2 separate regions of the Homo sapiens genome follow, and region 2 is linked to region 1. Evidence: fine-mapped expression QTL. A gene starts in region 1. The other region holds a variant in brackets. All regions are shown on one strand. Distances are from middle to middle.

Evidence for each region. PIP is the estimated chance that this variant, and not a neighbour inherited with it, causes the effect.
Region 2: its variant is fine-mapped to the expression of ARSG in whole blood (INTERVAL, PIP 0.92).

What each region holds. Positions count from the first base shown.
Region 1 is chr17:68,285,658-68,298,118 of GRCh38, forward strand. ARSG (arylsulfatase G) reads left to right here and starts at 5,838. Exons shown (of 12, transcript NM_001267727.2): 1 at 5,838-5,911. SLC16A6 (solute carrier family 16 member 6) reads right to left here and starts at 5,470. Exons shown (of 6, transcript NM_004694.5): 1 at 5,429-5,470. RefSeq lists silencers at 5,606-6,295, 5,662-5,836 and an enhancer at 6,696-6,925.
Region 2 is chr17:68,306,563-68,319,023 of GRCh38, forward strand. ARSG (arylsulfatase G) reads left to right here. Exons shown (of 12, transcript NM_001267727.2): 2 at 381-1,149. The coding sequence starts at 932. Among named protein-coding and RNA genes, the nearest start is that of ARSG, 21 kb to the left of the region's middle. RefSeq lists a silencer at 12,006-12,300. The variant C/CT (reference allele first, on the strand shown) is at 5,238.

The sequences.
Region 1 (12,461 bases):
GAGACTCCGTCTCAAAAAACAAAAACAAAAAAACTCCTGGGCTCAAGTGACCCTACTCAGCCTCTCAAGTGGCTAGGACTATAGGTATGTGCTACCATGCCCAGCCAATTTTTTTTTTTTTTAATTTATGTTTTGAGATGGAGTCCAGGCTGGAATGCAGTGGCATGATTTCGGCTCACTGCCACCTCCATCCCCCAGGTTCAAGCAATTCTTTGCGTCAGCCTCCCAAGTAGCTGGGATTACAGACGCCCGCCACCATGCCCAGCTAATTTGTTGTATTTTTAGTAGAGACAGGGTTTCACCATGTTGGCCAGGCCGGTCTGGAACTCCTGACCTCGTGATCCACCCACCTCGGCCTCCCAAAGTGCTGGGATTACAGATGTGAGCCACCGCGCCTGGCATAATTTTTATTTTTTGTAGAGACAGGGTCTCACCATGTGGACCGGGCTGTGGGTTGCATTTAGATGAGTGGGACCAGATTGCAGTTTTTGTATGAGCTGAGATTACCTGCCATCATGAGAAGGCTCTGTCTGGCCAGCACTGAAGTTCTGGTGCCAGCTGCCCCTTTCCTCTCTTCCCTTGCCTGTATCATCAGATGTTTACACTTGCAAAAGGGATGGGGCTAGGATGAATCTGTAACCCCTGAATAGAGTTAGAATTATTGAATGTTAAAGCTGAAGGGGAAAATTGAGGTTATCTTTTTCAATTCCTTTTTGTAAAATCTTACTCATTTTGTAAAATCGGGAAACTGATCCCCAAGAGGTGAAGGGACTTGACTGAAATAGCCCAATACTGAATCTCCTGCCTTCCAGGGCTCCTGCTGTACAAGCCTACAGGAGAGCATTTTATTGTATTTAATTTTTTTGAGATGGAGTCTTGCTATGTCACCTAGGCTGAAGTGCAGTGGCACGATCTTGGCTCACTGCAACCTTAGCCTCCCGGGTTCAAGCGATTCTTCTGCCTCAGCCTCCCGAGTAGCTGGGATTACAGGCACCCACCATCATGCCCGGTTGATTTTTGTATTTTTAGTAGAGATGAGGTTTCAGTATGTTAGCTAGGCTGGTCTCGAACTCCTGACCTCAAGTGATCTGCCCGCCTTGGCCTCCCAAAGTGTGGGATTACAGGTGTGAGAAACAGCTGATACTTTTGAATTTAGTACTGAATTCTATTAATCAACTGATGGCTTAAGCGAAGCCTGGTGGCCCAAGGAAACTGAGCTCGGAGAAAGTGTAAATGCTAGATGGTTCTTGCAAACATGGGTGTAAAGTAGCTAGCTGGTCATTGCTTAGATCTATTCTATGACAGCTGTTTAGAAGATGGTGGACTTTTTGTTTTTGTTTTTGGAGATGGAGTTTCGCTCTTGTTGCCTAGGCTGGAGTGCCATGGCACAATCTCAGCTCACTGCAACCTCCACCTCCCGGGTTCAAGTGATTCTCCTGCCTTAGCCTCCCAAGAAGCTGGGATTACAGGCATGCGCCACCATGCCCGGCTAATTTTGTTTTAGTAGAGATGGAGTTTCACCATGTTGGTCAGGCTGGTCTTGAACTCCTAACCTCAGGTGATCTGCCTGCTTTGGCCTCCCAAAGTGATAGTATTAAACGTTAGATAGTATCTAAACGATAGTGCTGGGATTACACGCGTGAGCCAGCATGCCCAGCCTTCTTCTTCTTCTTTTTTTTTTTAATAGAGACAGGGTCTCCCTATGTTGCCTAGGCTGGTCTGGAACTCCCGGACTCAAGCGATCCTCCCACCTCGGCCTCCCAAAGTGATAGTATTAAACGTGTGAGCCACCTCACCTAGCCAGATGGTGGACTATTCATTTCTATTTCCTTTCTGAGCCACTGCTGGGAAGTTAATTCCTTAGTTTTTTTAAAAAACTCTGCTTTATGTCTGAGCTATTCTACTCTAGCTAGAGCCACATATAACTTTCACCTGCATTCTTGGGTTTTTGGACAGAAGCTTTCTTTTCTTTTTATAACTGAGATCTCCATCAAGGAAAGATGACACCCTGAACCCCGTCCTACCCCCAAGGTTTATGCCTTTATCATCCTAAAGCATCCTATGTCCTATTAAATTTAGCTTTGAAGATAAGACCACAATATAAAGTAATAACAGGATAACCTGGTTTCTGAACCTTCCTGGGTGATAATGCCTGTATTTAAGTAAAGTCATGCACAGGTCTTTCCTTAAAAAACCGAGTCATAAGGGGAGAAAGTGCTTGGTTGCAGAATAAAACCCTTCCTGGACTCTTCTCCCTTTTTTCTTTTCTCTTCTCTTCTTCTCTTCTCTCTCTCTTTCTCTCTCTCTCTCTCTCCCCCTCCCTCCCTCCTTTCTTTTTTTTTTTTTTTTGGGGGTTGGGGATGGAGTCTCAGTCTGTCTCCCAGGCTGGAGCACAGTGGTGCGATCTCAGCCCACTGCAAGCTCTGCCTCCCGGGTTCAAGCGACTCTCCTGCCTCAGCCTCCTGAGTAGTTGGGATTAAAGGCGCATGCCACCACGCCCGGCTGATTTTTTTTTTGTATTTTTAGTAGAGACAGGGTTTCACCATGTTGGTCAGACTGGTCTCAAACTCCTGACCTTGTGATCCGCCCGCCTCAGCCTCCCAAAGTGCTGGGATTACAGGCGTGAGCCACTGTGCCCGGCCTTCTCCTTTTCTTTTTTTCCATTCCTTCAGCAGAAGGCCAAACCTTCTGTCTCTGCAAACAAAGCAACTGAGGCCTGAATTTTGAACTCATTTATGCAGAAGCCTCTGTAAGTTCCAGAATATAAAAGTTTATCTGTCCACTTTGGTCTGTGGCCATGTGAATTTATCTGACGGGTAGGGATATTTTTCAGCTGTGTAGGGATCTAACTGGTGAGGCGAGCTGAGTCATCCTGCCCATCAACCCCTGCTTTACGGATGATGGAATTTAGGCAAATCACTTCACTTCCCCATTTTCAATGTCAATGTAAAATCAAGGTAAATGTAAAAAAGGGAGTTGAACTAGACTCTGATGAGCTTAGATCTCTTCCTGCCCTAATAGTCTATACTTCTATGACAGCCTTTGACCGTCACTTGCTTTAATCCTTCTAAGCCCTTTGAAGGCAAGGCCGAAGAGTTGGTCTTCTTAAAGCTCTTAGGCCATATTTGTTAATTTCTGTGTACCATTAACTGGCTGCACAGTTATGGAAACCACAGAATCCTGAACTTCTAGAACTTCTATCATCTGTAAAGCATGGGTTGTCAGGGGAGTCTCTCAAGCCTTTTCCAACTTACAAAACTCGACAATTCTGAATGGGGGTTCCCGGCAGCCATCTTCCCTTCACCCTAGTGTTCTTCTGGAGGAAGTACAATGACACAATCCACGGGCAGTTTGGAGGATTTCCTAGTAGCATGTGGTTAAGTGTCCCCTTAAATAAATGAGTATTGGCCGGGTGCGGTAGCTCATGCCTATAATCCCAGCAATTAGGGAGGCCGAAGCAGGCAGATTACTTGAGCCCAGGAGTTTGAGACCAACCCGGGCAACATAGTGAGGCTGTGTCTCTACAAAAAAATTAAAAAATGAGGTGGGAGGATCGCTTGAGCCCGGGAGGTCGAGGCTGCAATGAGCAGAGATGACGCTACTGCACTCCCATGATGGGAGTGAGACCCTGCCTCTAAACAAATAAATAAGTAGGTATCTTGCCAAAGGCTTGGAAATCCGCTATCCTTGGGAGTTTCACTGTGATTTAATTTGTCGAGAGAAGATTTGGCCCGAGGGCATGAAAAAAATTGTATTATTGTAGACCATCAGAGTGTTATTCCAGGGTCAGCTAAGAGCAAGTTTCAAAACGCAGGCTCTGGATGGAAATGGGGTGGCTACTGTTGTAGGCAGACCTCGAGCAAAAGCACTGCGGATTTCTCTTCTTCTTAAAGGCGTAGCCCGGAGAACAGCTTTGACAAGTTGTTTCTGGCCCAAGTTGTCAAAACCAGTCTGTATTTGGCTAAAGTTCATCTGCATTCTCTATTTAAAAAAAATTTCCAAACCTAACCTGGATAGCTGCCTCACGATGTTGAATCACTGGCTACAACCGAGTCACCATTTTACAAGACTATGGTGTTGAAACCTGAGCCCCTAATTTAAGTGTCCTCCTCAGGAGTTCCACTGAGGAAAGTCCTTTTTCGGAAACCACAGAAGGAAAACTCAGGGTTAGTGGTACTCATTACACTGGAAGGAGCTTTTCCACTTGGCTGCATTGTTTATTTACACACTGTAAGTTCCTATTTTGGACACTCTTCCCTTAATTATGAGAAGAGGGGTTTCTATTATATCATCTGGCCGGATGTATTGTTGACCCCAAAAATGCCACATAACGGTGCTTGGGACATGGGGAGATGCATGGTTTAGAGATTTCAGCATAAGCACTTGGCATCTTTTTTACAAGCAAGACACCTATCTTACCATGATTTGCAAAAACAATCAGATCACTGAGAAATCTCATTCCCGGGGTAGAAACCATCTCCTGCGAGAAGGAGCTGGCACGGAGTGTCTAACCGTGCAAACAAAACCGGCTTCCAGGTTGACAAGTTGTAATTGCTCTTCCCCAGTTGGCTCCGGGGAGCTTTTTCTAAGACTGACGCCCCCCATGTTTGGTGACATTTTATATACGCCACCTAACAAACTTCTATGACCTGTCTTGCTAGGGTGGGGGGAATAAAAAGAAAAGACGACAACAACCTAGAAGGAAATAACCCATTTCCTCTGCAAAACCATCTTCCCTTGCTACGGAACTGCTTGGCGACACCAGCGCTTTCCTGCGGTTGGCAGCCCGGGAACCTTGAAGTTGCGCGGGACCGGCCGTCAGCCGCTGACAGTTCTGACAGTCCAGGTGGAGGACCCGCGCTCTGCCGGGAAATCCCCGGCTTCCCGCTGGGGACAAACGGTGGCCGCCGCAGGGAGTGCTGTGTTTGGGGGTCGGGGGAGGCAGGGAGCCCCACTTTCCCTCGCGCTGCCTCAGTGCCCGGCCTGCGTGCGCGCGCCAGCCTGGGGTAGGAAGGTACCTCTGACATTTCGCTCCTGCGACGCGCAGGCAACTTCATGCGGAAAATCCGCGGAGGGGCTGAGCCTGGAGCCCCCGACTCTTCCGACGTCCCGGAGCCCCCAACCCGGGGCAGGGGGCACTCAAAGGCCAGGCGTGCCTTTAGGTATCTTCCGGGACCCAACTGTACCAGGGTCACGGACATTCAACTCTCAGCTACCCACACCGGCGCGAGCGCGTCATCCCGGTGGCCCTGGGCATTCCTAACTGTCAGAGCGAATATTTTTGGGAATAACCTCTCCAAAATGTGAAGATGTTCAGTGGTCTCCTCCGCCTCCCATCACAAAAAAAGGCCCCAACACATATTTTTTAAAAAACAACCCACATCCCACAATCAAACTTTTAAACATGTAAAATAATAAACCAACTCACCAAGTTAGAAGGGAAGAGAATAAACCCCCAAAGGCTCCCAATAAGGCGGAGGCTTGGCCTCCCCCTCCTTATAAGCCGCTCGGTAACATGAGAAAAGGATTAACCCCTTAGGGGGCGGGCCCGACTCTAGCGCAAGTTGGCTCGGGCTGGTGAGGCCCGAGCGCCCGGGCCCTCCACCCACTCCCGCGACTCGGGCACCCGAGCCACACCCTCCCCCCGCCCCCCACCCCGGCCGCCTGCGACCCGGGCCGTGCGTGCTGCCGCCCGCGCCCCGGCCCCGCGTCGCTGCCTAGCTCTTATCCTATACCGGCTGCAGCCGGTCTCCGCCGGCCTCGGGGGCGCGCCGCCGCCGACCATGTGCTGCGAGCGCTGAGCGCAGCCAAGGAGGGGGCCTGCCTGGCGCGCGCGCGCCGTCCCACGTGGACCTGAGCCGCGCCGGTCGCGCGCCCGCCAGCCTGCCGCCTGGGCTGGGGGTCACGAAAGGTAACCGCGTCGCGGTCCGGGGCCGGGCCGCCCCCGCCAGCGCCGCCGGGGTCCTTGGCACAACGCCCCGATCTCCCAACCCGGGTGCGCCTCTGCGCGCGTGACCCGCCCAGACCCCGGAGCTTTGCTGCAACGCTAGTAGGAGCGCGAGCGTGCAGGGTGTTGGGGGTGCCTGCATCCTGTCTCGGAGCACCTCGGCCAGGCGCGAGCGCGCGGGTCCCCGTCCCCACCCCCGGGCGCCTTCCCGGCGCGCCCACCGCCCAGTCCCGCCCGCGCCCTGAGGATTTAGGGATTTAGCGGCGAGGGGGAACACGCGCGCGCCGGGGCTGATCCCGCGCGGCGCTCGCGGCTGCGGCGGCTTCGCGCCCGCCCCGGGCAGAACAGGTTCCTTCCAGTTTGGGTGTGAGCTGCGCGCGCGGCGCCTGAGTTCCTCCTGCAGCGCCCACTTCCCCCAGTTTCGTCAACTCGCGCACCCCCACAGTTCCCCTTCCGGCAGTGGGGAGGGAGTGTCGCAGTGGGCCCCAGGGAGCGAGCGGCCGGGCCGCTGCGGGTGCCTTGCTTCCCCCACTTTGCTGCACCGGCAGCAGCGGCAGCAACAGCATCCGCGTTGCGCGAAAGGAATGTGAGCAGCCGGGCTGAGTCAGCATCCCCGGCCCGGGGCGCGCGCGCACCCTCCAGGCAGTGGCGGCGTCGGCACAGGTGCATGGCTCCCATACCCGCGGGGAGCCCTCTGTAAGGGACCTGGAGGTTTAGACAGTCCGTGCCCCTCATCCCGTAGTCCCCGACCCCAAGGTCACCGTGAACTAAGCGGATGATGCACGCGAAATCTCAGGAGCTCCTCATGGGGACAAAGCATGTGTCAGATCCTAGACATTTCAGAGCCTGCGGGGGCGCAAACTTAGCTTCTTGGTCTCTACCTCACATCCCGAGGGCAAATTTGGAAACTGCTCGGAAGCAAAGGCCATGTTATTTGCATTCGTATGCAGACTTTGGCGCCGGCTGCTGCCTTCATTGGGGTTCGGAGAATGTGGTTCTGATGTCAGAAACTCAAGAGAGCCTAGTTTGGGAGTGCATGCACGGAGGGTCGCCACCGGGAGGAGTCGGCGATCTGAATTTTAATAAAAATCCTTCCTTGCTCGCTGAGTTCTCTCACCATTTTGGGATAGGCTCTCCTGAGTTAAATGCCATCCTTTGCCGTTGACAAGTTCTGGTTGTGTAAGTGGGGAGAAGATTCGTTGGTACAGGGTGCCTTGTATGGCCAGTAGTGTACAGCCAAGGGGCCGCTGAGCAGCTTTGCAACCTTGTAGGCGTAATTTAACCTCGTAGAGCGTTAATTTCTCCAGATCTGTAAAATGGGGATGGAGGTGGTATTCCCAGAATTGGAGGGTTTAATTTATGGTACTTGTAAAGTGCGGATCGCAGTGACTGGCATTTGGTAAGGCCTCAGTACCCATTAGCTCTTGCTGCTGTTACGATTTATGCTTTACCAAGGCCAATTAATTGCTGACTCCAACACACTCCCTGTGAGAGAGAGCCCTTTTTTGAGTTGTTCTTCAAAGGATCCATATATAATGATATTTAGAAACTGATTTGAACACTTCATGCTAATGCAGGGCTGCCTGTAAGATAATCTTTGATATTTAGGATCTTACACTTTAATACTTAGGACCTGTTACTGTACTCTATATGGAAATATCATGTGCAATATGACAGCATATTCTGTATGTCTTAGGAACCTAAAGGTGCAGCCAGCCATTTATACCTGAGTGACTCGAAGCAAGTCACATAAAATCTCTGTACTTCAGTCTCTTGATTTAAAAAATGACTCAAATTATACCTAAATCCTCAGGAGTGAATGAATGATTGGAAAAATCACATCTGAATGTTTGAGCAAGTGAAACCTGGCTTTTGGGGAGCATGATTCTAATAATAATAATAATAATAATAATAGATTTTTGTTACTAATGTGTTACTATTCTTATATTTTATTAATATTAATCTTTTTTAAATGTTTGCTTTGTCCTCAACACTGCATTAAGTGCCATACATGTAATGCAATGTTAACCGCATCAGTAACCTTCTGTAGTTGACACTCATTATTCCCATTTTACAGATGAGGAAAGTGGAGGCACTGAGCACTGGAGGGATTGACCTAAGGTTACACCATGTTTATAGATACACACTAGCACTTTTTACCACTAGAGCTCATCCAAAGATGACATTTGCCATCTGTGTTTGAATAATGGAGAGGTAGCTGGAAACCCAACCTACGCACAGCCTTGCTAGTCACAAAAAAGTCACGCAACATGACTTTTGCCCACCCTAGTTAGAGGCTGGCTTCACCTTGTTCCCTCAATCCTAGTGAGACCAAGCGTGAAAACCCCTGCTTTTTTAACTTCTCCAGAGAAAGCACTGCATTGCCATGCTAATCAACGCCCCCTTGCCCCCAAACAAAACTAACTCTGTTTAGTTCTAAATAAGAACAAAAGAACCTTTGGAGTCTGGAGTACAGGACCAGAAAAATCAGGAAATCAAGTGAAGGGCTCAGCTCCCCTCTTAGCCTCTCCTGTTGTGTCTGCCTGATCCCAAGTGGCAGGCAGAGCCCCCTCTCGGCTTTCCTTTACAGTGGGCAAGACCATCATGATGCCCTTAAGAAGACCCCCAACATCTTCTTGGGGAAAAAGTTGGCTCTTCAGAGCTGTCCCCAAGGCTCCCTCTTTTAGCCCTCTTGCATAGGGTCATTTGCATGAGAACAGATTCCTTTGTGTAAAGTTGGCCTGCCTGTTCTCTGTCCACGTTTATAGTCCTTCAAGTCTTCGTGTTGGGTTGCTAGGCAGATATGACCCTGGCTTGCAAATAAGCTCACTGCATTTACCAGCCTGTGAGAACTTCAACTTGGGTAAGTAGACTGAAAGGAATCTGGTCTGGACCTCTGGGAAGAGGGTCCCGCAAGCCTGCTTTTGGGGGCTGACTCTTCAGGGCAGCCATCAAAGGGGGAGAATATGTGAAGGGGGCTTCCATGGGAGGCTTCGATGGCCCACCCACCCTTCCATTCTTCCTCTTCCAGTCTCTGTTCCACCCACCATGCTCCCACCCAGGGGCTTGTGTTCTGGGCAAGTGACTTGTATGCCACTGAAGCAATTTCTTGCTTTAAAACTTTAATATCTGCTTCTCCAATTGGCCAGGAACTTCACACACTCTGCCATCTAGCAACAGTGAACCGATGGTACAGGTAGTTCTGCTAGGTTTATTTTGTGATTTGGGTTCCTCCCCCGCAGCACCCCGCCAAATTTCACAGTTTGTAGGAAGGCAGGGCCCTTCAAACTGGGAAACACACACTTCTGGGAGAATTTAAAGATTTGCCAAGGGGTTCTGAGGCACAGATAGTGATGACGATGATAATAATAATACTACAGAGTTGTGTGCATGGCTTAGTACAGTTGCTAAGTTAACTGAATTAACACGTGCAAGGGGCTTAGCACTGGGATTGGCTCATGGTCAGGTTCCCTAACTCTTGGCTGCGACTCTTTCAACCTGTGAGTCCTGGGGGATTGAGGAGGATGGCGATCAGGGAAGCCTTCAACTGGCAGAGAGGACCTTGGGAGAACTGGCAAGGGGTGCTGAGCCAAGGGAGAGGTGAACAGCATGAGAAGAAGGTAGGAGGTAGGTGAGGCCATTCTGTATTTGGGGACAGTGAGGTCACCTTCCCACTCGTGTGTGTGGGCGGCCGATGATTGATTTCTGTCATACCTGTTACCATTTGGTGCAGTATCGATGTATCGTTGGTGTCTGTCATTAACTCTGAAGTAACTTTTACTTGATCAGTACTGAATTTCATTCCTAGGCTTCTCAGTCTTCATAGTTGACTGCTCCTGTAGTTTTGCCATTTATTACTGCTTAAAAATTAAAAAAAAAAATAGAGAACATAGCCTCCGGGAGGCTTCTATAAATTATCTCAAGCCTGTTGCAAAAGTCCTAGAAAACAAACCCAGGCTGAGTGTGATAATCCTAGTGCTTTTGGCATGAAGGCAGGAGGATTGCTTGAAGACCAAACGTTTGAGACCAGCCTGGGCAACACGGCAAGACACCACATCTAAGACAAATTTTTTTTTTTTTTTTTTTTTTTTTTGAGATGGAGTCTTCCTCTGTTGCCCAGGCTGGAGTGCAGTGGCGCGATCTTGGCTCACTGCAACCTCTGCCTCCCGGGTTCAAGCAATTCTCCTGCCTCAGCCTCCCAAGTAGCTGGGACTACAGGTGTGTGCCACCATGCCTGGCTAATTTTTGTACTTTTAGTAGAGACAGGGTTTTACCATGTTGGCCAGGCTGGTCTCGAACTCCTGGCCTCAGGTGATCCACCCACCTCAGCCTCCCACAGTGCTGGGATTATAGGCATGAGCCACTGCTCCGGCCTAAAAAATATATATTTTTAAAAAATTAGCTGGGTGTGGTGGTGCTGTCACACCACTGCACTTCAGCCTGGGCAACAGAGTAAGACCCTGTCTCAAACCAACCAACCAACTCCAAATCTCAGAACAAAATTATTTAAATCACATTACATTTAGGAGTGAATGCACGTCACATTAAACTGTGTGACACAGTTGTGGGTCGTGGGATCTCATTGGCAATATTGGGAAGGGCTGTGTGTGGGACCAGTGGATTTTGCCCCGATCGAGTCACGCTTTCTTCAGATAGTTGTTGAAGTTGTTCCACCTGCCCTGTTCCTCAAGGCCCAATGAATAAAAACCTGCTCTCCTGCTGTGTTTCTTGCCTAAAGGGAGATGCTGACTTTCCCTATCTTGTCTAAACAGGTACCTCCTGTCCTGTGTTTCTAGATTCCCAGGAACAATAGGCAATGTTAAGCTTCCATTTTAACCCTTTAGGAGCAGTGCCTCCGTGAGTTTCCAGATGGCTAGGGGACGATGCGAAGAAACTACAAGGATGCTGCAGGATTGTGTTGTGGGCAAATGGTGAGGAGGGGCCCCGCCCTGCTGTGATCGGTGGGGGCCTGTGGAGTTAGGTGAGCTTTGTAGGGATACACAGCAGGACTGGGTCCAGGGAGCATCCATCCCTCCATCCTTCCCTCCCATGCCCATCGTTCATCCGTCCATCCACCCAAGCGGCCTCTGCTCATCCATAGCCCACTCGTGAGCACTGACAACTGCTGTTGTCTCCCAGGCCACAAAACCACACCTCAGAGGATGTGGTTCCTTCTCTCATAGTGTGTATAGTTTAGTTCAGAAGACAGGACACATGCGATTGTTACGTAAAACAGCATTTCAACAAGTACAATTTTACAAGTGAGAATTACAAGTGAATGTCTTCTAAGAAAGAACTTAGAAAAGTCATCTAAGTTGAGGGGAATGATGAGATGAAGCTGGCAGGGCGAGGCAGAGCAGGCTGGGCTGTTGATGTTCATGTTACATGCACTCATCCAGCAAATATTGACTGAATACCTTCTGGGCCGGGTGCCGGAATTATGCAGTGCATAAACTATACAGAATGTCCCTGCCTTTACAGAGTTTCCGCCCTGGAGTTGTAGATCTTTCTTGCTTGAGCACCTAGCTAGCCAAGCATCCTGGACAAAGAGTTCTTTTGAAATGTTTCTGATATGGAAATGTAACTTCCATTTTCAATTAACATCAACAAAGGGGAGATTCCCCTCACACGCATCCTACATCTTGACCTCATATTGTTAAATTGTCCGAAACCAGATTTGCTGGAAGGCAGCATACTCCAAGGATGCCAGCTATTATTAGAGTCTGCTTGGCTGAAGGGACCTGGCTCAGGTTTAGCCAAGATGGCACAGATAGTCATGGGATTGTGTAACAAGGAACCATAGTTTGGAACGTTGAAAATGTAAACTGAAATCAGTCTTTATTTCCTCTTTGCCTTGTTTGTGACTATGGTGGCGTGTTTGTAGCTTCTGTCTTCTCTAGGTTCAGAAACCAGCATCAGAGCTTGCTTAACAAACAATTCTGGCAGATTCAGCCAGTAGCTGCAGGGAGTCTGGATTTTGCCATCTATACTCAGAATAGTTATGTTTTTATCTTTTTTTAAAATTAAAAAAATTTTTTTTCTAATAGAGATGGGGTCTTGCTATGTTGCCCAGGTTGGTCTGGAACTCCTGGGGTCAGGTGATCCTCCTGTCTCGGCATCCCAGAGTGTTGGGATTACAGGCGTGAGCCGCTGTGCCCAGCCATTATGTTTTATTTTAATGTTAGTAACGCTTTGGCTTGCATAGCACATTTTTAGTGTGTTCTCATATTTATTATCCCTTTATCCTCAAAACAATCAAGAGATGGACTAACAGTAGCCAATATTTCTTAGCACTTACTGAGAACTTGGGTTGGATTATTTCATTCTCACATTGTGTTTGGGGTTGAGAAAGTTTACTGTGACTCTTTTTTTTTTTTTTTTTTCCCCTGATATCTAATTCCAGGCCAAAACTCCATTTTTCAGGTAAGGGAGGAAACTGAGACACAAAGAGATTCTGTAACATATCCATGGTCACACAGCTGGCAAATCACTGCTGAATCCCGGATACATACTC
Region 2 (12,461 bases), 21 kb after region 1:
TTGACTGTTACAAATAACCATGTCTTGGTAATAAGGGTCTCACCTCTCCTTCTGGAATTCTCAGTGGCACACTGGGATTTAGCAGCATTGGGGGCTGGTCCTGGTCCCACCCAGAACACTGGGCCTCAATATCCTCATCTCTACAGTGAGTGGGTTGGCAGAGATCATCTCTAATGTTACTTCCAACCCTGTCGCTATAGGTCCATTGCGAATATTATTATCATCACTATTTTTCAGGTGGAGAAACTGATGAACCAGTTAAATATTTGAATAAAAACATCTGTTGGCATGGAAAAGTGATTATTTCCTAAGCTACTGAGTAAAACACAGCTGCACTGGCAGTTTTAACTCTGTTTTCTTGTCAATTTTTGTTCTTTCAGGAAACCTTACAGAAACATGAAGCCCTCAACCATCTGCTACTCAGTTATTCGGGGCTGACGGCGGCTTCTAGAACATCCAGGTGTTCTGCAGATGCGAGAACTCATCCTGTAGTCACCAGATGGAGTCCCAAACAGCCAAGCAGATGTAAGGCCTGTGCTGTGGCTCTGAGGCCCTGAATACAGAAGGGTCACTTTCTTAGTGGCCAAAGAGCAGTTGTTGACATTGATGTCTAATTATTGAACACGACCAGTCATTTTACTGAGCTGCGGTGAGGAAACACTGACCATAGAAGATCAAGCCAAATGAGGGATTGCAAATTTCCTGATTCTTTTGAATTAGGATTCCAGATGGGGGCCTCATTTCTACAGCCCCCAACATTCCTATAGCCGTTATCACTGCCATCACCACTGCCACCAGCATCTTCTTGCAGATTCCACCCCTGCTCCCCAGAGACTTCCTGCTTTGAAAGTGAGCAGAAAGGAAGCTCTCAGAAAAATCTCTAGTGGTGGCTGCCGTCGCTCCAGACAATCGGAATCCTGCCTTCACCACCATGGGCTGGCTTTTTCTAAAGGTTTTGTTGGCGGGAGTGAGTTTCTCAGGATTTCTTTATCCTCTTGTGGATTTTTGCATCAGTGGGAAAACAAGAGGACAGAAGCCAAACTTTGTGATTATTTTGGCCGATGACATGGGGTGGGGTGACCTGGGAGCAAACTGGGCAGAAACAAAGGACACTGCCAACCTTGATAAGATGGCTTCGGAGGGAATGAGGTGAGTCTTGAGATGCCAGGCCAGCCTTTCTTTGGATGTCTTACTCCCGTTCTTGAGAGGGGAAGGGGCCGTGCAAAGCACTTAAAGAGTCATTGATGGACCCATGCTGATTTAGTTAATTTATTAATTAATTTGGTTTGAAGCCAGCATAGCATCGTGAAGAAATCCAGCCATCTAGCACCCATCCATCTATCTAGTAACATTCATTATGTGTTAGGAGCTAGGAATACAGAGGTGAACAAGATAAAACATTTTTGCCCTCAAGTTATTCATTGTCTGGTAGAGAAGACAGGTTAAAAGGAAAGTAAGGGGCTAGGTACAGTGGCTCATGGCTGTAATCCCAATGCTTTGGGAGACTCAGGTGGGAGGTTCACCTGAGCCCATGATTTTGGGACCAGCTTGGGCAACCTGGCAAGATCCCACTTCTACAAAAAATAAAAGCAAATTAGCTAGCGGTGGTGGCACGCTCCTGTGGTCTCAGCTACTCGGGAGGCTGAAGTGGGAGTGTGTCTGGAATTGGTGGGTTCTTGGTCTCACTGACTTCAAGAATGAAGCTGCAAACCCTCGCGGTGAGTGTTACAGCTCTTAAGGTGGCACGTCTGGAGTTTGTTCCTTCTGATGTTCAGATGTGTTCGGAGTTTCTTCCTTCTGGTGGGTTCATGGTCTCACTGGCTCAGGAGTGAAGCTGCAGACCTTCACGGTGAGTGTTACAGTTCTTAAGGCGGTGCGTCTGGAGTTGTTCGTTCCTCCCGGTGGGCTCGTGGTCTCGCTGGCTTCAGGAGTGAAGCTGCAGACCTTCATGGTGAGTGTTACAGCTCATAAAAGCAGTGTGGACCCAAAGAGTGAGCAGTAGCAAGATTTATTGCAGAGAGCGAAAGAACAAAGCTTCCACAGTGTGGAAAGGGACCTGAGCGGGTTGCCACTGCTGGCTCGGGCAGCCTGCTTTTATTCTCTTATCTGGCCCCACCCACATCCTGCTGATTGGTAGAGCTGAGTGGCCTGTTTTGACAGGGTGCTGATTGGTGTGTTTACAAACCTTGAGCTAGATACAGAGTGCCGATTGGTGTATTTACAATCCCTGAGCTAGACATAAAGGTTCTCCAAGGCCCCACCAGACTCAGGAGCCCAGCTGGCTTCACCCAGTGGATCCCGCACCGGCGCTGCAGGTGGAGCTGCCTGCCAGTCCCGCGCCCTGCGCCTGCACTCCTCAGCCTTTGGGTGGTCGATGGGACTGGGCGCTGTGGAGCAGGGGGTGGTGCTCGAGGAGGCTCGGGCCGCACAGGAGCCCACGGAGGGGGTGGGAGGCTCAGGCATGGCGGGCTGCAGGTCCCGAGCCCTGCCCCACAGGAAGGCAGCTAAGGCTCGGTGAGAAATCGAGTGCAGTGCTGGTGGGCTGGCCCTGCTGAGGGACCTAGTACACCCTCCGCAGCTGCTGGCCCGGGTTCTAAGCCCCTCATTGCCCGGGGCCCGCAGGGCCAGCTGGCTGCTCCGAGTGCGGGGCCCGCCAAGCCCACGCCCACCCGGAACTCCAGCTGGCCCACAAGCGCAGCACGCAGCCCCAGTTCCCGCTCGCGCCTCTCCCTCCACACCTCCCTGCAAGCCGAGGGAGCCGGCTCTCGCCTTGGCCAGCCTAGAAAGGGGATCCTACAGTGCAGCGGTGGGCTGAAGGGCTCAAGTGCCACCAAAGTGGGAGCCCAGGCAGAGGAGGCGCCGAGAGCGAGCGAGGGCTGTGAGGACTGCCAGCACGCTGTCACCTCTCAGGAGGATCACTGGAGCCCAGGAGTTCAAGGTTGCAGTGAGCTATGATTGTGCCACTGCACTCCAGTGTGGGTCACAGAGCGAGACTCTGTCTCTTAAAAAATAAGTAAATAGGCTGGGTGCAGTGGCTCACGCCTGTAGCACTTTGGGAGGCTGAGGCAGGTGGATCACCTGAGGTCAAGAGTTCGAGACTAGCCTGGCCAACCTGCCGAAACCCTCTCTCTACTAAAAATACAAAATGTAGCCGGGCGCAGTGGCAGGCACCTGTGACCCCAGCTACTCGGGAGGCTGAGGCAGGAGAATCACTTGAACCTGGGAGGCAGAGGTTGCAGTGAGCTGAGATCGCACCACTGCACTCCAGCCTGGGCAATAAGAGTGAGACTCTGTCTAAAAAAAAATAAATAAAATAAAAAAGTAAATAAATAAAGAAAGAAAGGGAAATAAGAATTATAAGCAAATAGCTTCTGAGCCCACATCCAGAGTTTTTTGTTTGTTTGTTTGTTTTGTTGTGTTTTTTTTTTGAGATGGAGTTCCGCTCTTGTTGCCCAGGTTGGCGTGCAGTGGCACGATCTCAGCTCACTGCAACCTCCATCTCCCGGGTTCAAGCGATTCTCCTGCCTCAGCCTCCCGAGTAGCTGGGATTACAGGTGTGTGCCACCTGGGGAGAAACCCCAGAGATCGGGTTTCTCCATGTTGGTTAGTCTGGTCTCAAACTCCCAACCTCAGGTGATCCGCCCGTCTCGGCCTCCCAAAATGCTGGGATTACAAGCGTGAGCCACCACACCCAGCCCCAACATCCAGAGTTTTTGGAGAACAGAAGCGAGGGTGTGGAACCCAACCTGGGGTTTCAAGGGAGGAGATGGCCTTTGAAGAGCAAAAGAGAGTCTGTGAGGCGTGGGAGATGTGACTCACTTATTTATGAAAGGCGTGGCTTACACTTAAGGCATACTGAACTCTAAGGGACCACAAAAGAGGAGCCTATGCATCTGATGAGTTGAAGTGTTTAGAAAACAGCTATTGCAGATTTTTGTTAAAACACCCAGCTCCTTTCCCTTCTTAGATGGAGAACAAGCGTTAGAGCTTTCAGACTTCAGGATTTTCTTCTTGGGCTAACATTGGTCTGATTGTCCAGCTCGGATTCTGTCTGCACTGGGCGAAACTCCTCCATGTGGTTCGGGGGGAATCATTTCAGCTCACCGCTTAGGATGACGCATAGGGCATCTCCACAGAGTTTTGGCCACTTGCATCCTAGAGCTTGATGCTTTTCCTGAGATACGCGCCCTTGGTGGGTGGTAGTTTCTGCATCTGGTCTCACCCACTCCAGTTCTTCCTCACCTCCATCAAGGTGAACTTTGTAGAAACACTCTTCTGCTTCCAGTCCTTCAAAGACATTTTTTAGCCCTAAGGATAAAACCCATACCCCATACCACAGCTAACAAACTGGAGTTTGGCTGGGTGTGGTGGCTCACGCCTGTAATTCCAGCACTTTAGGAGGCCAAGGTGGGCACATCACTTGACAGGAGTTCAAGACCAGCCTGGCCAACATGGCGAAATCCCATCTCTACTGAAAATGCAAAAATTAGCCAGATGTGGCGGTGCACGGGAGAACCTGGGAGACAGAGGTTGCAGTGATCTGAGATTGCACTGCTGCACTCCAGCCCGGGCAACAGACTGAGACTCTGTCTCAAAACAAACAAACAAAACCAACAAAACCCCAAACTGATTTCTTCTCCACTCTTCTCTCTTGCAGTGGTCTTTGGATGAGCCCTCCCTTCATCTGTGTGATGGGTTCATCCTGGTGCACTCTCCACTTCCTCTGTTTAATTAGTTTCTACTCACTACTTAGGTCTCAGTTGTACACGAGGGCCTCAGGAAAGCTTTCGTGGATGCCTCGGGTGTTCTGTGATGGTCCTTGCTGCTTTCTGTGGTGGCTGTTCAATCATCTGACCACTACATTGGGTTGAATAGCATCCTCCCTAAATTCATGTCCATCTAGAACCTCAGAATGTGACCATATTTGGAAACAGGGTCTTTGCAAATGTTATTAATTAAGGCTCTCGATGATCTCAGAATCGATTTAGGGTGGGTCCTAAATCCAGTGACATTTCCTTATAAGAAGAGGAGAAGACACAGGGACACACAGAGAGAGATGGTGACGTGAAGATGGAGGCAGAGATTGGAGCCATGCCTCTACAAGCCAGGAACACCAAGGACCGCTGGCAACCAGCAGAACAAGGAGAGAGGCATGGAACAGATTCTCCCTCAGAGCCTCCAGAAGGTACCAGCCCGGCCGACATCTTGATTTCAGACTTTTAGCCTCCTGTACTGTA[C/CT]TTTTTTTTTTTTTTTTTTTTGACGGAGTCTTGCTCTGTCGCCCAGGTTGGAGTGCAGTAGTGCGATCTTGGCTCACTGCAACCTCCACCTCCCAGGTTCAAGCGATTCTCCAGCCTCAGCCTCCCAAGTAGCTGGGATTACAAGCATCTGCTGCCATGCCTGGCTAATTTTTGTATTTTTGTAGAGATGGGGTTTCACCATGTTGGCTAGGCTACTCTCGAACCCCTGACCTCAAGTGATCCACTCGCCTTGGCCTCCCAAAGTGCTGCGATTACAGGTCTGAGCCACCACGCCTGGCCTGTACTGTTGTTTTAAGCCACACAGCTTGTGGTAATTTGTTATGGCAGCCACAGAAAACTTACACACCTCCCTCCTAGCTCTGGACTTCAGGAAGAAAAATGCCTCATCTGTTCTTTCCCGCTTATATTCCTAGCATGTAACACAGTGCTTGGTACGTAGTGGGCAATTAATAAATATTTGTTCATCAATAAATGGGCTCTAGGAGCTCAAGATGCCCTGGAATGTCACCCCAAATTTTGCATGTAGGAATACTTTTCTGGGGAGAGAGTTCATCCATTCATGAACATTTACCAGATTCTCCAAAGGGCGTGGGTTGCCAAATGCTTAGGAACTTCCGCTTTCAGTGTTTAGCAGGTTAGCGGGGAAATATTAGTCCCATTATTTAAGCTGAGATTTGCGAGGCCTACACGTTTTTTTTTTCTCATGTGCTGTCTCTACTGTCACACTCTCATCCTGAGCAGAAAGGAGGACTCAGGGGTCAGATGCCAAATGTGGTTCGTTGGGCTCTCCTTCTCCCCACCCCCTTATGAAAGTGTTTCTTTCCATCTGAGCCTTGTGACAGTGGCCAGGTGGCTAGCCCTCTGGCCTGAGGTCGACGGCTTTTCATTCTTCTTTGTTGACAGGAAAGCCGGGCTTCCTGTGAGGCCATGAACTGATTCATCGCTGGTTTCTCCCACTGCCTACTCACGGCCAGTGGGGAACCATGACTTTCAGACACGAACTCTTATTGCCCAACAGGGTCTGGGGTGACTAGCTGGGACTGCACGCTCAAGCCACCACGCCCGGTTCTGTTGCCTCCTTTTTATTTGTGCATGAATTTTCTAGGACTGCTGGAACAAATTACTCCAAACTGGACAGCTTAAAATGTTACTTTGTTCTGGCCAGGCACAGTGGCTCACACCTGTAATCCCAGCACTTTGGGAGGCCGAGGCGGGCAGATCACGAGGTCAGGAGATCAAGACCATCCTGGCTAACGTGGTGAAACGCTGTCACTACTAAAAATACAAAAAATTAGCCGGGCATGGTGGCAGGTGCCTGTAGTCCCAGCTACTCAGGAGGCTGAGGCAGGAGAATGGCGTGAACCCGGGAGGCAGAGATTGCAGTGAGCCGAGATTGCGCCACTGCACTCCAGCCTGGGTGACAGAGTGAGACTCCATCTCAAAAAAAACAAAAATAAAAACAAAAAAACATTACTTTGTCCTTTCACAGTTCGGAGAGCCAGAAGTCCAAAATCAAGGTTATGACTGAAGGCTCTGACAGAGAATCCATTCCTTGCCTCTCTCCTGGATTCTGGTGCCTGCTGGAATCCTTGGCATTCTGGGCTTCTAGACTCCTATCTCCGCCTCAGTTGTTATGAGGCGTTCTTTCATGCCAGTGTCCAGACTCCCCTCCTCTAATAAAAATACCAGTCTTTGGATTGAAGGCCCACCCTACTCCAGTATGACCTCATCTTAACTTAATGACATCTGCGAAGACGCTATCTCCAAATAAGGTCACGTCACAGGTTCTGGATTGATATGAAATTGAGGGGAACGCTGTTCAGTCTGGTGCAATTAGCTGTATTACGTATCTCTCTCTCTCTCTTTTTTTTTTTTTTGAGACACAGTTTCACTCTGTTGCCCAGGCTGGAGTGCAGTGGTGCAATCTTGGCTCACTGCAACCTCCGCCTCCGGGTTCAAGCGATTCTCCTGCCTCGGCCTTCTGAGTAGCTGGAATTACAGGCACCTGCCACTACGCACGGCTGATTTTTGTATTTTTAGTAGAGACGGAGTTTTGCCATGTTGGCCAGGCTGGTCTTGAACTCCTGACCTCAAGTGATTCACCTGCCTTGGCCTCCCAAAGTGCTGGGATTACAAGCGTGAGCCACCATGCCTGGCCTACATATCTCTTTTTACTCCGCTTCTAACGCAGTCTATAATGTAGTAGGTGGTCAGTCAGTATCTGTCGCATTAAAGACTAAATGTCATGCTTAAGAGGGCAGGAGCCAGACAGTTTGAGCTCAAATCCCAGCTCTGCCACTTCCTATCTGTGGCCCCGGGCAAACTGCATCATCCCCTGGAGTTTTGCTTTCCTCTTCTGTAAGTGGGGACAATGATAGCACCTCTACCTCACAGGATGTTGTGAGGGTTAAATTAAGTAATCTGGGCCGGGCACAGTGGCTCACACCTGTAATCCCAGCACTTTGGGAGGCCGAGGCAGATGGATCACCTGAGGTCAGGAGTTTGAGACCAGCCTGACCAACAAGAAGAAACCCCATCTCTACTAAAAATACAAAAGTAGCCAGGCGTGGCGGCACATGCTTGTAATCCCAGCTACTCGGGAGGCTGAGGCGGGAGAATCATTTGAACCCGGGAGGCGGAAGTTGCAGTGAGCTGAGATTGCGCCATTGTACTCCAGCCTGGGCAACAGAGCAAGACTCCATCTCAAAAAAAAAAAAAAAAAAAATTAAGTAATCTGTAAACCAGGTGTGGTGTTGCACATCTGTGGTCCCAGCTACTCCAGAGGCTGAAGCACACGGATCCCTTAATGCCAGGAGTTCAAGGCTGCAGTGAGCTATGATCATGCCATTGTACTCCAGCCTGGACAACAGAGTGTCTCATAAAAAAAATAAAAAATAAAAAATTAAGTAATCTGTGTAATCAGTTAGCATAGAGCCTAGCATACAATAGATAGGGTTCTATGTTAGCTATGGTTATTTTTGTTATTGTTACTAGAAATGTCCAAATGGAATGTCAGTGTGAATTGGCTAATCTGCATGATAAAAGGTCCAGTGACAAAACTTGGAAGGATGAGGTGGAGTTCCAGTGACAAATTCCTGTTAATCCCTATGCTGGCTGTGCATTGGGGCCAACACCTTTATTTGAATCAACACAACAGCTGCAACAATCACTAACCCTTACCAAGCTCTTGCAAGGTGCCAGGCTCTAGGCATTACCCTGGCTAATTCTTGGTACCACCCTACTTTTCTCTTATATCTCAGATGAGGAAATTGAGGTTAAGTAACACGCCCAGAGTTGGTGAGTGGCCAAGCCAATATTCAAACTCAGATTTCCTCATTCTAGAGCCTTATTCTTTCAGGGCTGGGCAGAACTGGGGAATCAGCAAAGAGAATCCATCAAGATTTGGCCAGCTTTCCCATATGGCTGTCAAAGAGCAGGAGGCCAGGCGTGGTGGTTCACATCTGTAATTCCAGTACTTTGGGAGATCGAGGCGGAAGGATTGCTTGAGCTCAGGAGTTTGAGAGCAGCCTGGGCAACATAGCAAGACTTCATCTCTACAAAAAAATCAATAAATTAGCTGGGCGTGGTCCTACCTACTCCGGAGGCGGAGTCAGGAGGATTGCTTGAGCCCAGGAGGTTGAGGCCACAGTGAGCTATGATCGTGTCACTGCACTCCAGCCTGGGTGATGGAGTGAAATCCTGTCTCAAAAAAAAAAGGAGATTGGAATCTCATCATTTTTTTTCTCCCTTTGGTGCTAATGAAGGATTTTTGTGCTGTCCAAGCATAAGAGGCAACCTGAGAAATGGGATTGTATTTAGTTATTTATTTTAAGATGAAGTCTTGCTCTATCGCCTAGGCTGGAGTGCAGTGGCGCGATCTTGGCTCACTATAACCTCTGCCTCCCAGGTTCAAGTGATTCTCCTGCCTTAACCTCTCGAGTAGCTGGGACTACAAGTGTGTGCCACCATACCTGGCTAATTTTTGTATTTTTAGTAGAGACAGCATTTCACCATGTTGGCCAGGCTGATCTTGAACTCGACCTCAGGTGATCCACCTGCCTCGGCCTCCCAAAGTGCTGGGATTACAAAGTGCGTGGGTGGCACCCAGGCAGAAATGGGATTTAGATGTCAGTCATCAAAATGGTTGATGCAACCATCGTTCAGGAGGCTCACCCAGCCAGGGATGTGTGATGGCTGCAGTTTCAGGTGCCTGCAATCTTATCCTGCCTACTCCAGCTTCATCTCCAACCCTCTCCTCATGTTCCTCACATTGCACATGTTTCTGTTCCTTGAACATATGCTTTTCCCTGCCTCAGGGCCTTTGCACTGGCTGTTGCCTCTTATTGGCGAGGTCTCTCCTCAGGCTTCAAGCAGCTGATCGCTTCTCATCCTTCTGGCCTCCACTCAAATACCATGTCCTCAGAGAGGCCTTTCCTGACCGTGCTCTCCAACATTGCCTTCCTACCCCATGCACATCTCCTACCCATTCTCCTGTTCTGTTTCCATGACCTGTATCACTGTTGAAATGATCTTCTTTGTTTACTTCTTTGTTGCCTGTCTCTCCCACTGGAATATTGCCTCCTTACAGCAGCCTCCTTATCTGTCTTATTTATGTCTTCAGTGGCTAAAACAATGCCTGGCACATGGTAGGTGCTCAAACAATAATTGTTCACGTACTTGGATTCCTGGATCTAAACTTCTAGGTGTGCACACATGGGTTGACCCGAGCATGAGAGCTGGAACTAGACTGCCTTGGTCTGTTACTTGCTAGCTCTGGGACACTGTGCTAGTTATTAAACCTTGCTGGACCTTAGTATGCTTATCTCTGCAATGGGAAAATAATGGCACCTACATCACAGGGCTATGGTGAGGAGGAAATAAGTTAGGTCATATAAGGCAGCAAAAGGGTCCCTGGCATGTATTGGTGCTTGATGGGTGCTAGCTCTTATGATTCCCTATGACACCGGCCCTGCTCCCCTGTTCGTCACAATTCCCTCCTCTGGCTGGAGGGTGAGGCCTGTTTTCTCAGCGTCTGTTCCAAAAGCACCTTGCTCTATCTATTCCCAGACTCTCACCCTTCCCCAGGTTGAGCTGTAGGACTCATCTGGCTTCTTAGAATCTGCTTGTTTCTTCTCATTCCTAGACCAAATCCCCAAGTCAACACCTAAAGGTCTCAGTAACATTTCCCTTTTAGTTTGTGGCCAGCGCACACGATTCGTTTTTTGTTTGTTTTTAACCTGGTTGCAGGAGATGTGATTTGCCCATTTTTGCACAGAAAGGGCACCATCCGTACCACAATTATGATGTCGTTATTTGTTAAAGGAAGAAAGGAATCTGGGGGAAGAAAAGCAGAATCTTTCGGTGACTTCATATTTTGGTATCCCTTTTCAGACTTCTAAACTCTATTTACATGGAGATAAAATAGGGATTATGGCCTAAAATCCCACAGCCTTAAGCCCATTTACAGTAGCCCAGGTCAAAGAGCATTCATGTCACCATATCCCTTTGGGAGAAACTGAGGCCGAGAGAGACGAAGTGTTTTTACTGTTATAATCAGCTCTCTGCCATGTGGGGGTCGATTATGTGGTTTGTGGGTTTGCTAGCTCAAAGATTGACTACATGAAAAATAATGATGAACTGTTTTGTTTTTTTTTTTTTGTATGTGAAAAACCCAAAGCTACTGCAAATCAGCAAACATCTCTTTATCAGAGGGCGTTGTCGTTTAGGGCCCCCAGTGTTGAGAGATTGCTCATGTATGCACCGCAAGGCCCCAAGTCCCCTCGCACATGTCAGTAGGTTAAGCAGCCAACCTATTTTGCCGTTGACCTTGTGGGATGTCATTTTGCCAATGTCCTTTGTAGATCTGAGCTGGGCTGTGCTGTTGAACACTTATCAGTTTAAAAATGATAAGATAGCCAGAAGATAATTGAAATGAAATTTAAATGAAAATGTCAGGGACTTAGTAATCAACTAAAACTTAAAAATGTTAAGCAATTGGCCAGGCGCAGCAGCTCATGCCTGTAATCCCAGCACTTTGGGAGGCCAAGGCCGGTGGATCACCTGAGGTCAGGAGTTCAAGACCAGCCTGGCCAATGTGGTGAAACCCCGTCTCTACTAAAAATACAAAAATTAGCCGGGCGTGGTGGCGGGTGCCTGTAATCCCAGCTACTCGGGAGGCTGAGGCAGGAGAATCTCTTGAACCCGGGAGGTGGAGGTTGCAGTGAGCTGAGATTGTGCCTTTGCACTCCAGACTGGGCGACAAGAGCGAGACTCTGTCTTGGAAAAAAAAAAAAAAATCAAGTAAAACAGGAGATGAAAGCAACTTGCATTACAATAGGGGACAGAGGATGAATTGCTCATGATTTAAAAAAGAGAAGAGGACCAATGCATTCTGTTGGCATCATTTCCAGCTCTTCATGCAGTCTGAAATTAGTTAAGATAACTCTGAGAGCTCGGTGAATAACCCTGATGATACAACACTAGTTTGGTTCTTGCTGGCAGCACATCTCAGACCCAGGGAAAGCCAGTGCTGGTTTCACCTGTGATAAACAAGTGACATTATTTCTTGAAAATTCTCAGGCTGGGAAGTGCCTTGCATATGACTCCTGGCTGGGTGGCTGGATTCAGGCAATGGCCTAGGATTTCTGAATGGGGATTTGAGCTCCTGGGCAGTAATGACTCACAGGTCTCTTGGGAGAGAGACAGAGAATGCCCAGTGATCGTGAGAGAGAGGTGGCCACAGGCAGCGAAGCCCAGATACTTCCCATTTGCTTGAACTGTCTGCCAGGCTGACTCAGAGGTGCAGGTGACAGCACACTGTAATCATGTTTACTTATGTACGTTGATTTGCAATATGTTAACTTTGCGCCTTGATCTCATTTCTTCTCTGCTTTCCCCCTTCTCTACCCCTGGTTTAATTTTGAGTCAAGTCAATGCTGCTGCTGCTAGGAGTTACGGGCAGTGGCTTAGCTCGGAATCAAAGATCAATATTTGCCACAGGAAGGTCAGGGGCTCCCAGGGACTTGAGGCTGTTTCTAAAACGGGCCTCAGTGAGCAATGAATTGAGCTGTCAATTTAGTTGAACACTTGGCTTGATTTGTGTTCTCAGAATTGGCTTTTTGCAAGAGTTCATGCACCCTGTTACCTCTCAGACCTCTTTTTCTCAGCCACCCTGCTGCCTTGGGGATTTGGCAGTAACCTAAT